Linked DNA regions of Homo sapiens: all the other regions are reported to be linked to region 3. Evidence: microRNA targets listed by miRTarBase, many of them from high-throughput screens and not tested one by one. Region 3 holds a microRNA gene; each other region holds the end of a gene's coding sequence.

What was found. Region 3 holds the annotated microRNA hsa-miR-181d-5p (AACAUUCAUUGUUGUCGGUGGGU, at 1,772-1,794, opposite strand). A microRNA usually pairs through its seed, bases 2 to 8, with sites in the 3' UTR of a target mRNA and lowers its output. Matches are read on the target gene's strand: a 7mer-m8 pairs with bases 2 to 8, a 7mer-A1 pairs with bases 2 to 7 and ends in A, and an 8mer does both.
Region 1: the mRNA of HNRNPH1 is a reported target of hsa-miR-181d-5p. Seed matches in the 3' UTR shown: 7mer-A1 at 1,943-1,949.
Region 2: the mRNA of ZNF107 is a reported target of hsa-miR-181d-5p. The part of its 3' UTR that is shown has no 7-base or 8-base seed match.

Annotation. Positions count from the first base shown.
Region 1 is chr5:179,612,900-179,616,054 of GRCh38, forward strand. It overlaps HNRNPH1 (heterogeneous nuclear ribonucleoprotein H1), which reads right to left. Exons shown (of 14, transcript NM_001257293.2): 13 at 2,647-2,696; 14 at 1,279-2,060. The coding sequence ends at 2,647. All of the region lies in intron 4 of LOC128966623 (a long non-coding RNA gene), which reads left to right. Among named protein-coding and RNA genes, the nearest start is that of HNRNPH1, 9.2 kb to the right of the region's middle. RefSeq lists an enhancer at 929-988.
Region 2 is chr7:64,708,270-64,711,424 of GRCh38, reverse strand. It overlaps ZNF107 (zinc finger protein 107), which reads right to left. Exons shown (of 4, transcript NM_001282359.2): 4 at 1-3,155. The coding sequence ends at 2,769. Among named protein-coding and RNA genes, the nearest start is that of MIR6839, 31 kb to the right of the region's middle.
Region 3 is chr19:13,873,549-13,876,703 of GRCh38, reverse strand. MIR181D (microRNA 181d) reads right to left here and starts at 1,829; the gene lies at 1,693-1,829. MIR181C (microRNA 181c) reads right to left here and starts at 2,005; the gene lies at 1,896-2,005. It also overlaps a transcript of NANOS3 not described here.

The DNA.
Region 1 (3,155 bases), not on the chromosome of region 3:
AGAGTGCAGTTAACTGATAAGGTGCTGAGGCAAGCGATGTCCAGTTCCCAGCAATTTACTCAGAGATGGTACCATCAAGCCCCCATGTTTGTCCGGTAGATAACACCCAGAGCCCCCTCACCTGTCACTTTGTGATGAATTTGAAGCTCCTGCACCTGGAACTGTTTTCCTGTAACCATTTGTCTTTAACTTTTTTGTCTGTTTTTCTTCCCTAAGATGGCTGCAGCTAGAATCCCCCTCCCCTCTCCAAACCAAAGTATAAAAGAAAATCTAGCTCCTTCTTCGAGGCCGAGATACTTTCATGCGGTAGCCGTCTCTCGGTCGCCGGCTAATAAAGGACTCCTGAACTCGTCTCCAAGTGTGGCGTTTCTAACTCGCTCAGGTACACCACTTGGAAGCAGCTTGAATACTTGCTATCATCATGTTGGAGCTTCGAACTACCAAAACGTGATATATTTAAGAGTTCATTTAAACTTCTCATGTTAGCTCTCAATCTCTACCTATCGTTCTACCTTAGGAGACTTACATGGAATTTTGCTTCCAAGTGGAATTGATTTTTAGGAATGACCCAAAAATACAGAAGTTCAAAACTTCCATTTGAAAACCATCTGTGAAGGCTGGGCAATGGCTCCAGCCTATAATCCCAGCACTTTCAGAGGCCGAGGTGGGCAGATCTCATGAGGTCAGGAGTTGGAGACCAGCCTGGCCAACATCGTGAAACCCCGTGTCTACTAAACATACAAAAAAAATTAGCCTGGAGTGGTGGTGGGCGCCTGTAACCCCAACTACTTGGGAGGCTGAGGCAGAAGCCCACAAGGTGGAGGTTGCAGGTGAGCTGAGATCACGCCACTGCAATCCAGCCTGAGACAACAGAATATAACTCTGCCTCAAAAAAAAAAACAAACCTATGAGCTTATGAGCTAGAAGAAACCCACATATTCATCACACCTCCCTTGCCTCCGGCACCTTCCCAGCCAAGCATGAAGGCCTCAAAGACATGCAGGCATGCAGTGAGGGCACTGGCGCCTCCCCCTTTGTTTTGTGCAAGTGCTTAATGAGTTACAGGCAGTTCAGATCAGGTCCTGTGCAGCCAAATGACATACAGCCCTTCCACCAGGGCCCCAAAGACGAGTTTACCTTCAGTTGCACTGGAGGGAAGACTGAAGACATCTACGCAACAGCCTCAACTGCCAAGCCAGAGATGTGGCCCTAGGCCCCAGGTGGGCACAGAGCACCAAGACTCAGTCCACATGACACTGAAGCACAGACAAGACAGAGTGCAGTTTTTAAAAGGAGGATTTATTTGACAAGTTTCACTTAGCGCAATATACCTAAAAGGAAATCACAATACAATGAAAGATTTAAATCAAGGCCTCAGAATTTCATACAAACACCAAGACCAAAATCCTAAGTATTGGTATTGCGTCTCAAATTTTTCCCATTAACTTAAAAAAAAAAAAAGCTTAAACTTACGTGCCTTACAGGTTATTAAATGAAACTAGAATTAACAAACATGCCAAAATGTTTCACTTTTAATAGTAGACACAGCTCCTATATTGTTTTACAAAAAAATAAAAGCATGTCTTTCAACATGCATCCAAAACAGTGTTCAATTTAACGTGGCAAAGGGCAACATTTAACATAATTCAACTGCTTTTACCTAAATACGCTTACTGCTTAAGTACATCCTATAACTAACTTGAGAAAAGCTGGAACTTAAGTTTAACAGTTATAGTTTACTCAGCTTCACTGTTACATCCTAGATGAGTATTGTATTCAAAAATACTGGGCCTTAAGTCTTCATAACAATCCTGATTTCCACTTAGAGTAAGCATAAATCACAAGCTTGTATTGCAGAAACTGTTAAACTGAAGTTTTCTTAAAGAAAAAAAAAAAAAAAAAAAAAAGGTTGACCAAGAGTCAGTGATCAGGATCGATCAATTACATTCCCCATCCACCACTCATACTGGACATGCTAGACAACCCTCCCATTCCGTTCACGCCCATAGATGCACGGCTTCCACTACTGTAGTAGCTGCTGTTCACTGCTCCTTGGTTACCTGCAAAGAGATCAATTTGACAAGTTAGGAGTAATATCAGACTACCAGTCAAATAAAATATAGTATTCCAAGAAAAAGTTTAAAAAGTATACGAGTACAAATGGCTGCTGTCCAAGTGGCGAGACGCATGTTTGGGAAAGGGGAATCCCGACTCCAAACAAGCCTCAATTAACCCCTTTTCTCTGCAGTACCAACTTGCCAGACTCTTGTGCTACCATTTTAACGGATTCTTCAGGATCAACATGAAAAATTAAGTTTAAAGGAAAACTAGTGTTTTTCAAAAATTGCAAAATTACTTCGTATTTTTAAAGCTAAACAAGGCATTTTTAAAAAAAATTTAACATAAACATTCACAATGTGTCCCTCGAATGGCATTTGAGAAAAGGGAGCACAGGGGAAGTCTCTTGCTTTTCCTATTCATGGTGGGCAGGAAGTGAGACAACCAAGCTGGACTAAAGGCAACTCACTGTGCCCAAATGGCAGCCTCCATGGAGTTAAGTCAGAGCCATTGACTGCTATAGAAAGCATTATTACAACATATCAGTATTTGCTATTGGGAATTTATATTTTTTGAGAAAATATTTACCTATGCAATGTTTGATTGAAAATCACTGGAGTTTTCCTGTAAAACTTGGTCTGCAAAAGGATTTTGTAGGGTAAGACTATAATACCAAAATCACCATTCTTTAGACCAATTGAAAAAAAATAAATAAAACCAATCCTAGGTTAACTGACTAATAAATACGATCCTGAACCCAACCACCATTCTACTATTTCAAATTCTCCCTCTGTCTAAAACTGACTTAATGCTAACCAAAAGACAAAAAAGTGAACAACTTTATTTAATGTTTTAATACATGGAGGCAGATATTTTCTGGCTCGACAGTATTCCAAAGCTGCAATGACTAGTTCTTAATTCAAAGAACACTTCCCCCTCCCAATGATTGTTTCTGAAAATTAGCTAGTAAAAACAGTTACATTTGGATTGAAAGCATACATTTCATAACCCAATTTCACCGAAAGGAGCCTGCATCTTCCCAACTAAAGGCACCTGCCTGCGACTTACTCTAAGTACAGTAACAGGCTTTACCATAA
Region 2 (3,155 bases), not on the chromosome of region 3:
ATGCTGGAGTTGATGGATACATCTTTTGCCCTGATGTGATTAATACATAAAATTATATGCCTGTATCAAAATATGCCATACATGGCATAAAGATATACACATACTATGTATCCACAAAAATTAAGAGAAATAAGTTTAAATTTTAAAAAGAATAAAAATCTAACCTATGGGAACAATATTCTTTATTAGCAGTTTAAAGTCACTAGCAAAAATAATTATTAGAGATGTTAGCCCATTATGTTATCAAGTAGTATACTGTTACCCTCTTTTACCTAAACCCTTGAGTAATGTGGGATAGGTAAAGTCAGTGGCATGAAAACACTTCATTGAATGCACAATAGTTTTAACATGTTAAAAAAAGTTTAATTAAAAAACTAAGTTCACGCATAATCCAAAAATTTTTAAACACATTGCATTTTATTACATAAAAGTACAAATAGTAAAATGATATACTACTAATTCACTTTAATTTTAACTAAGATTAAAAATGGTTTTCTCTTACTATAATGCAGAAGAATATTGCTCTGAAAACCTACTTCATGGATCACTCAATATTATAAGTTAAACACAAACAGCCTCTTCACTCAGGTTTTCATCATGCATCTTACATTTTAATGTCCTTATTCTTTCATAGAAAGTGTCATAAATAATACCGACCTAACAGAAATGATTTCTCATATCTTTGATGCATGAAAAATTAATCACATGCTTTCACATGTGAATACAATAGGAATGAAGAGCATGAATTTGAGTTGAATTACATCATTTGCTTTTCAAAAACTAATTTTTCAAGAAAAAATATAATTTGAATGTAATTATACATCTACAAAAAAATTCTACTTCTTTTAAAGTTATATACACATTATTTACCTACCAACTTTAGTTTTAAATTATTTTCTATACTCAGCATTCTGATTCTATACTCAGCAATGTCTGAAGTGTCAGTACCTTAGATATTTCTACTGTGAATTCTCTGATATTTATATAGACTTAATTTTGGATTAAATTATTTTTATATTTACTTCACTTGCAAAAATATATTTTAGTATGAGGCCTCTGGTATTTTCTAAGCTGTAGTTTTTTAAAAAATGTTTTCACAAATGCATTACATTTACAGTGCTTTTCTCCAATATAAATTTTCTGGTGTTGAACAACATTTGAGCAACTGCTTCATGGTTTTCCTCTAGTGCAAAATGGGTACAAAAGTATCTGTGATACAAGTAAAGGTACTACAACCCTCTTCGTATTTGTATTGTTTGTCCTCACAATGAATACTCTTTTTTTGTTTTGTTTTTGAGACGAAGTTTTTGCTCTTGTTGCTTTGGCTGGAGTGTAGTGGTGTGATTTCAGCTCACTGCAATCTTCGCCTCCCAGGTTTGAGCAATTCTCCTGCTTCAGCCTCCCAATTAGCTGGGATTACAGGGGCCTGCCACCACACGCAGCTAATTTTTGTAAAATTTTTAATAGAGATGGGGTTTTGCTATGTTGGCCAGGCTGGTCTCAGACTCCTGCCCTCAGGTGATCCACCCACCTTGGCCTCCCAAAGTGCTGGCATTACAGATGTGAGCCAGCACAACTGGCTCCTCTTCTTCACTTTAAAGGCTTATATTTTCTGAAAGATCTCTTGACAAAAATTGCATTTATAATGCTTTTATTACGTACTAACTCTCTAATGTTGAGTAAAATCTGAGCAGATAATAATGGCTTTTCCACATTCCTTGTATTTGTACAATCTTTCTGAAGTATAAATGCTTTCCTGTGCAATAAGGGGTGAGCATTTATTAAAAGTGTTGCCACATTTTTTACACTTCCAGGAGTTTTCTTCAGTATGGATTCTTACCTACAATCAAGTGTGACAACCATTTAAAGGCTTTGTGATATTTTTCACATTTCTAGGATTTTTCACCAGTATGATTTATGTTAGAAAGTTCGAGGTGTTGTCAAAATTATTGTCACATCATTCAGGTTTGTAAAGTTTTCAGTATTATCTTATGTTTAGTGAGGTTTGAGGATTGGTTTAAAGTATTGCCACATTATTCACATTTGCAGGGTTTCTCTCAAAGTATAAACTGTCTTATATGTAGCAAGGTGTGAGGACCAGTTAAAGGCATTGCCACGTTTTTTACATTTGTAGGGTTTCTTTCCAGTATAAATACTCTTACATGTAGTAAGAGTTGAGAATCAGTTAAAAGCTTTGCCACAGACTTCACATTTGTAGGGTTTCTTTCCAGTATGAATTTTCTTATCTACAGTTAAGGGTTAAGGAAGGTTAAAAGCTTTGCCACATTCTTCACAATTGTAGGCTTTCTCTCCAGTATGAATTTCTGTATAGTAAGGTATGAGGATTGGTTAAAAGCTTTGCCACATTCTTCACAACTATAGAGTTCCTCTCCAGTATAAATTATCTTATGTGTAGAAAGGTGTGAGGACTGATTAAAGGCATTGCCACATTCTTCTCATTTGTATGGCTTTTCTCCAGTATGAATTACCTTATGTTTAGTAAAAGTTGAGGATCAGTTAAAGGATTTGCCACATTTTTCACATTTGTAGGATTCTCTCCAGTACGAATTTTCTCAACTTTCAGTAAGGTTTGAAGATTAGTTAAAAGCTGTGCCACATTCTTTACATTGTAAGGTTTCTCACCAGTATAAAATACCTCGTGTGTGCAGAAAAAGTTGAAGACTTGTTAAAGGCTTTAACACATTCTTCACATTTGTAGTTTCTCTCCAGTATGAATTTTCCTATGTGTAGTAAGCTTGTAGGATCAATTAAGTTTTGCCATACTCACATTTGTAGGGTTTCTCTCCAGTATGAATTTTCTTATGTGTAGTAAGATTTGAGGATAGGTTGAAAGCTCTGCCATAATCTCCACATTTGTAGGGTTTCTCTCCAGTATGAATTATCTTATGTATATTAAGAGATGAGAACTGGTTAAAGGATTTGCCACATTCTTCACATTTGTAGGGTTTCTCTGAAGTATGAATTTTCTTATGTGTAGTAAGGTTTGAGGATTGGTTAAAAGCTTTGCCACATTCTTCACATTTATAGGGTTTCTCTCCAGTATGAATTTTCTTATGTGCAGTAAGGGTTGAGGATAGGTTAAAAGCTTTGCCACATTCTTTACATTTGTAAGGTTTCTCTCCAGTATGAATTAT
Region 3 (3,155 bases):
TGTGTGTGTGTCCAGGCGGGAGGTTGCTGATGCTCCAGCTGTCTCTGAAAGGAGTGTGGTAGTCCCAGGCTCATGGGCTGGTTGCGGGGGTAGGGGGGAAGGATCATGCCCCCCGGCCCCCAGCTCTGGTCTCCCTCCAAGAGTTTTCACATCGGTTGTCTTAGTGGAACCCCCATTGAATGGATGAGCAAACTGAGGTGTGAAGCCACCTGCCCATCCAGTTATTTATAAAGACATGCACCAGGCCAGGGAGTGGTGGCTCATGCCTGTCATCCCAACAGTTTGGGAGGCCAAGACAGGCGGATCACCTGAGGTCAAGAGTTCGAGACCAGCCTGGCTAACATGGTGAAACCCTGTCTCTACTAAAAATACACACACACACACACACACACACAAAATTAGCTGGGCATGGTGGCGGGTGCCTGTGATCCCAGCTACTCAGGAGGCTGAGGCAGAAGAATTGCTTGAACCCAGGAGGCAGAGGTTGCGGTGAGCCAAGATCAAGCCACTGCACTCCAGCCTGGGAAACAGAGTAAGACTCTGTCTCAAAACAACAACAACAAAAAGCACCACATCTGCCTCCTTCTTCTAGTTACTGGGGCCCCCTGAGGCTAGGTGCTGGGGAGGGAGCCCTTTCCTGGCGGGGGCTGCAGAGGGGTGAGAAAGAACCCTCTGGAGTTGGGAGGTGGGGGATAGCAAGTTGGGCTGTTAGGAGGGGACCCCTAGTACCTACAGGTCTTCAGTGTCCTCCCCGAGATGAGATCTCAGCTCAGTCCCAGGAGGGGAGGGTGTGCTCAGGACTTGGACACAGAGGAGAGACGCTGTGCCGCTTACACAGCTCATCCACCCATCCATTCATTTAAGAAACTTTTATTGGCCAGGCACTGTGGCTCATTTTGAGAGGCCGAGGAGGATTGCTTGAACCTAGGAGTTGGAGACCAGCCTGGGCAACGTTTTGAGACCCTGTTCCTACAAAAACACTTTTTCGAAATAAGCTAGGTGTGGTGGTGCGTGCCCGTGGTTCCGGCTACTGGGGAGGCTGAGGCGGGAGGATCAACGCTTGACTCCAGTTATTAGAGGCTGCAGTGAGCTAAGGTCACACCATTGCACTCCAGCCTGGGTGACAAGAGCGAGATCCTGTCTCTAATTTAAAAAACAAAACTATGGAGCACTCCACGGAGCAGAACTTACCACCCACATTTCAGAAAGGGGTTTTAGGCCAGGCAAAGTGGCTCATGCCTGTAATCCCAGCACTTTGGGAGGCCGAGGGGGGAGGATTACTTGAGGTCAGGAGTTTGAGACCAGCCTGGCCAACACAGTGAAATCTCGTCTCTACTAAAAATACAAAAATTAGCCCACTGTGGTGGCAGATGCCTGTAATCCCAGCTACTTGGGAGGCTGAGGCCAGAGAATCACTCAAACCCTGGAGGCAGAGGTTGCAGTGAGCTGAGATTGGGCCACTGCACTCCAGCCTAGGCAACAGAGTGAGACTCTGTCTTAAAAAAAAAAAAAAAAGGGGATTTTAGCTGCCCTGCCCCAGCCTGTTTACCCCCAACCCTCTAATATTTAGTCCCAAATCCAGCCAGAGCCCATCCAGATTCCAGACACCAGCTCTCCTCTCCAAAGAGGAGTGGTTGGGGTCAGGGCAAAAAACAGGCTGAGTGACTGTGGCGGTGGGGGGTCCTGTCCCCAGTCCCCATTCCCCTTAAGCCGTGTCTGGCCCAGCCACAGTGACATTCATCCCCCGGTGGGTCTGGCCTCAGTCCTCACAACCCACCGACAACAATGAATGTTGATTGTGACCTCGGCTGTGGCCTAGGGGAGGGGACGTGCCCAGGCTGGATTGGGGGCTCCCCAGGCCCCCCTAGATCTGGAAGGTCAGAGTCACCGGCAGGAGGATGGCAATTCCAGGCCTCAGGGTCCACTCAACGGTCGATGGTTTGCCTGAGCTGCCCAAACTCACCGACAGGTTGAATGTTCCCCCAAACCCTTGGCAAATTTTCCGGGACCTGGAGTCGGGGGTGGGGTAGGTGGCAGGGAACCAGAGAGCATGAAGAGGGAGAGGAGGAGAGAGTAAGGAACCCCTTTTCTCTCATGAAATAAACAAACGCTTTTCAGGTGCTGTTTGCACCTAGATCTGGGAAAAACACAAGGCAAATATAAATGCTAGTAAATAAAATGTAGCCTTTGCTATGGGGATGGAGATGTAGCAGTGCAGGGGAGTGCTGGCCTCAAGCCCGCTCCTTAAGTAATTCACAAAGTGATCCTGGAGGTGCAGATTACCCCCCTTTGTCAACTGGGGAGACTGAGGCCAAAGGCCACTGCTAGTCCGAGGTGGAGGAGGCATTCCAAGTGTTCCCGGGAAGTCTGGCAACGGAGGATCCTGGCCCCGAGGGCATTGATGCAACGTGGAGATAAACAAGCCATTTTAATACAATGTAATACGTTCTGGGAGCTTCACTGAGTTCCGGGCACGATGGTTTAGGAATCACAACAGCGTGAGTGGAGCGCTTGGGGGTGGGGGGTCGTCAGGTCTCTCCACTTTACAAGTGCACTGGGGCCCCACTAGACAGGGGAGAGGCAGGAGGTTCAGAGAGGGCGCCGCTCGCCCCGCGTGCGCGGTCACACAGCATCTGAACTCGGGCACTTCCGGAGGGAGTCCGCGCAGCCACGTGGGGGCTGCCCCTTGGGCCTCAAAACCGGCTGCGGCGCCCCCTCTCCATTTCCTCATCCCTCAAATGACCCCCAGTCCCTTCCTCCAGTGATCGCACAGAGTTCGGCGACCACCCCCCCGCCCCGGGTGCCCCCAGGCCTACAGGTACGCACCCCTATCTCCCACCCCCCGCAAGCCAAGCAGTGACGACCAGGGATGGGCGAGCGCGCCTTCGCCCCTGACCTGGGTCTGCGGACGGCCTAGGAAGGTGCACCCGGCATGGCCGGGTGCTGCGGCTCAGGCCTGTAATTCAGTATTTTGGGAGGCTGAGGCGGGAGGATCTTTTGAGCCCAGGAGATGGAGACCAACCTGAGCAACATAGCGAGATACCTGTCCCTACAAAAAAATTAGCTGGGTGTGGTGTAGTGAGCCTGTAGTCTTAGCTACTTAGGAGGCTGAGATGGGAGGATCGCTTGGACCCCAAGAGTTCGAGGCTCGAGGC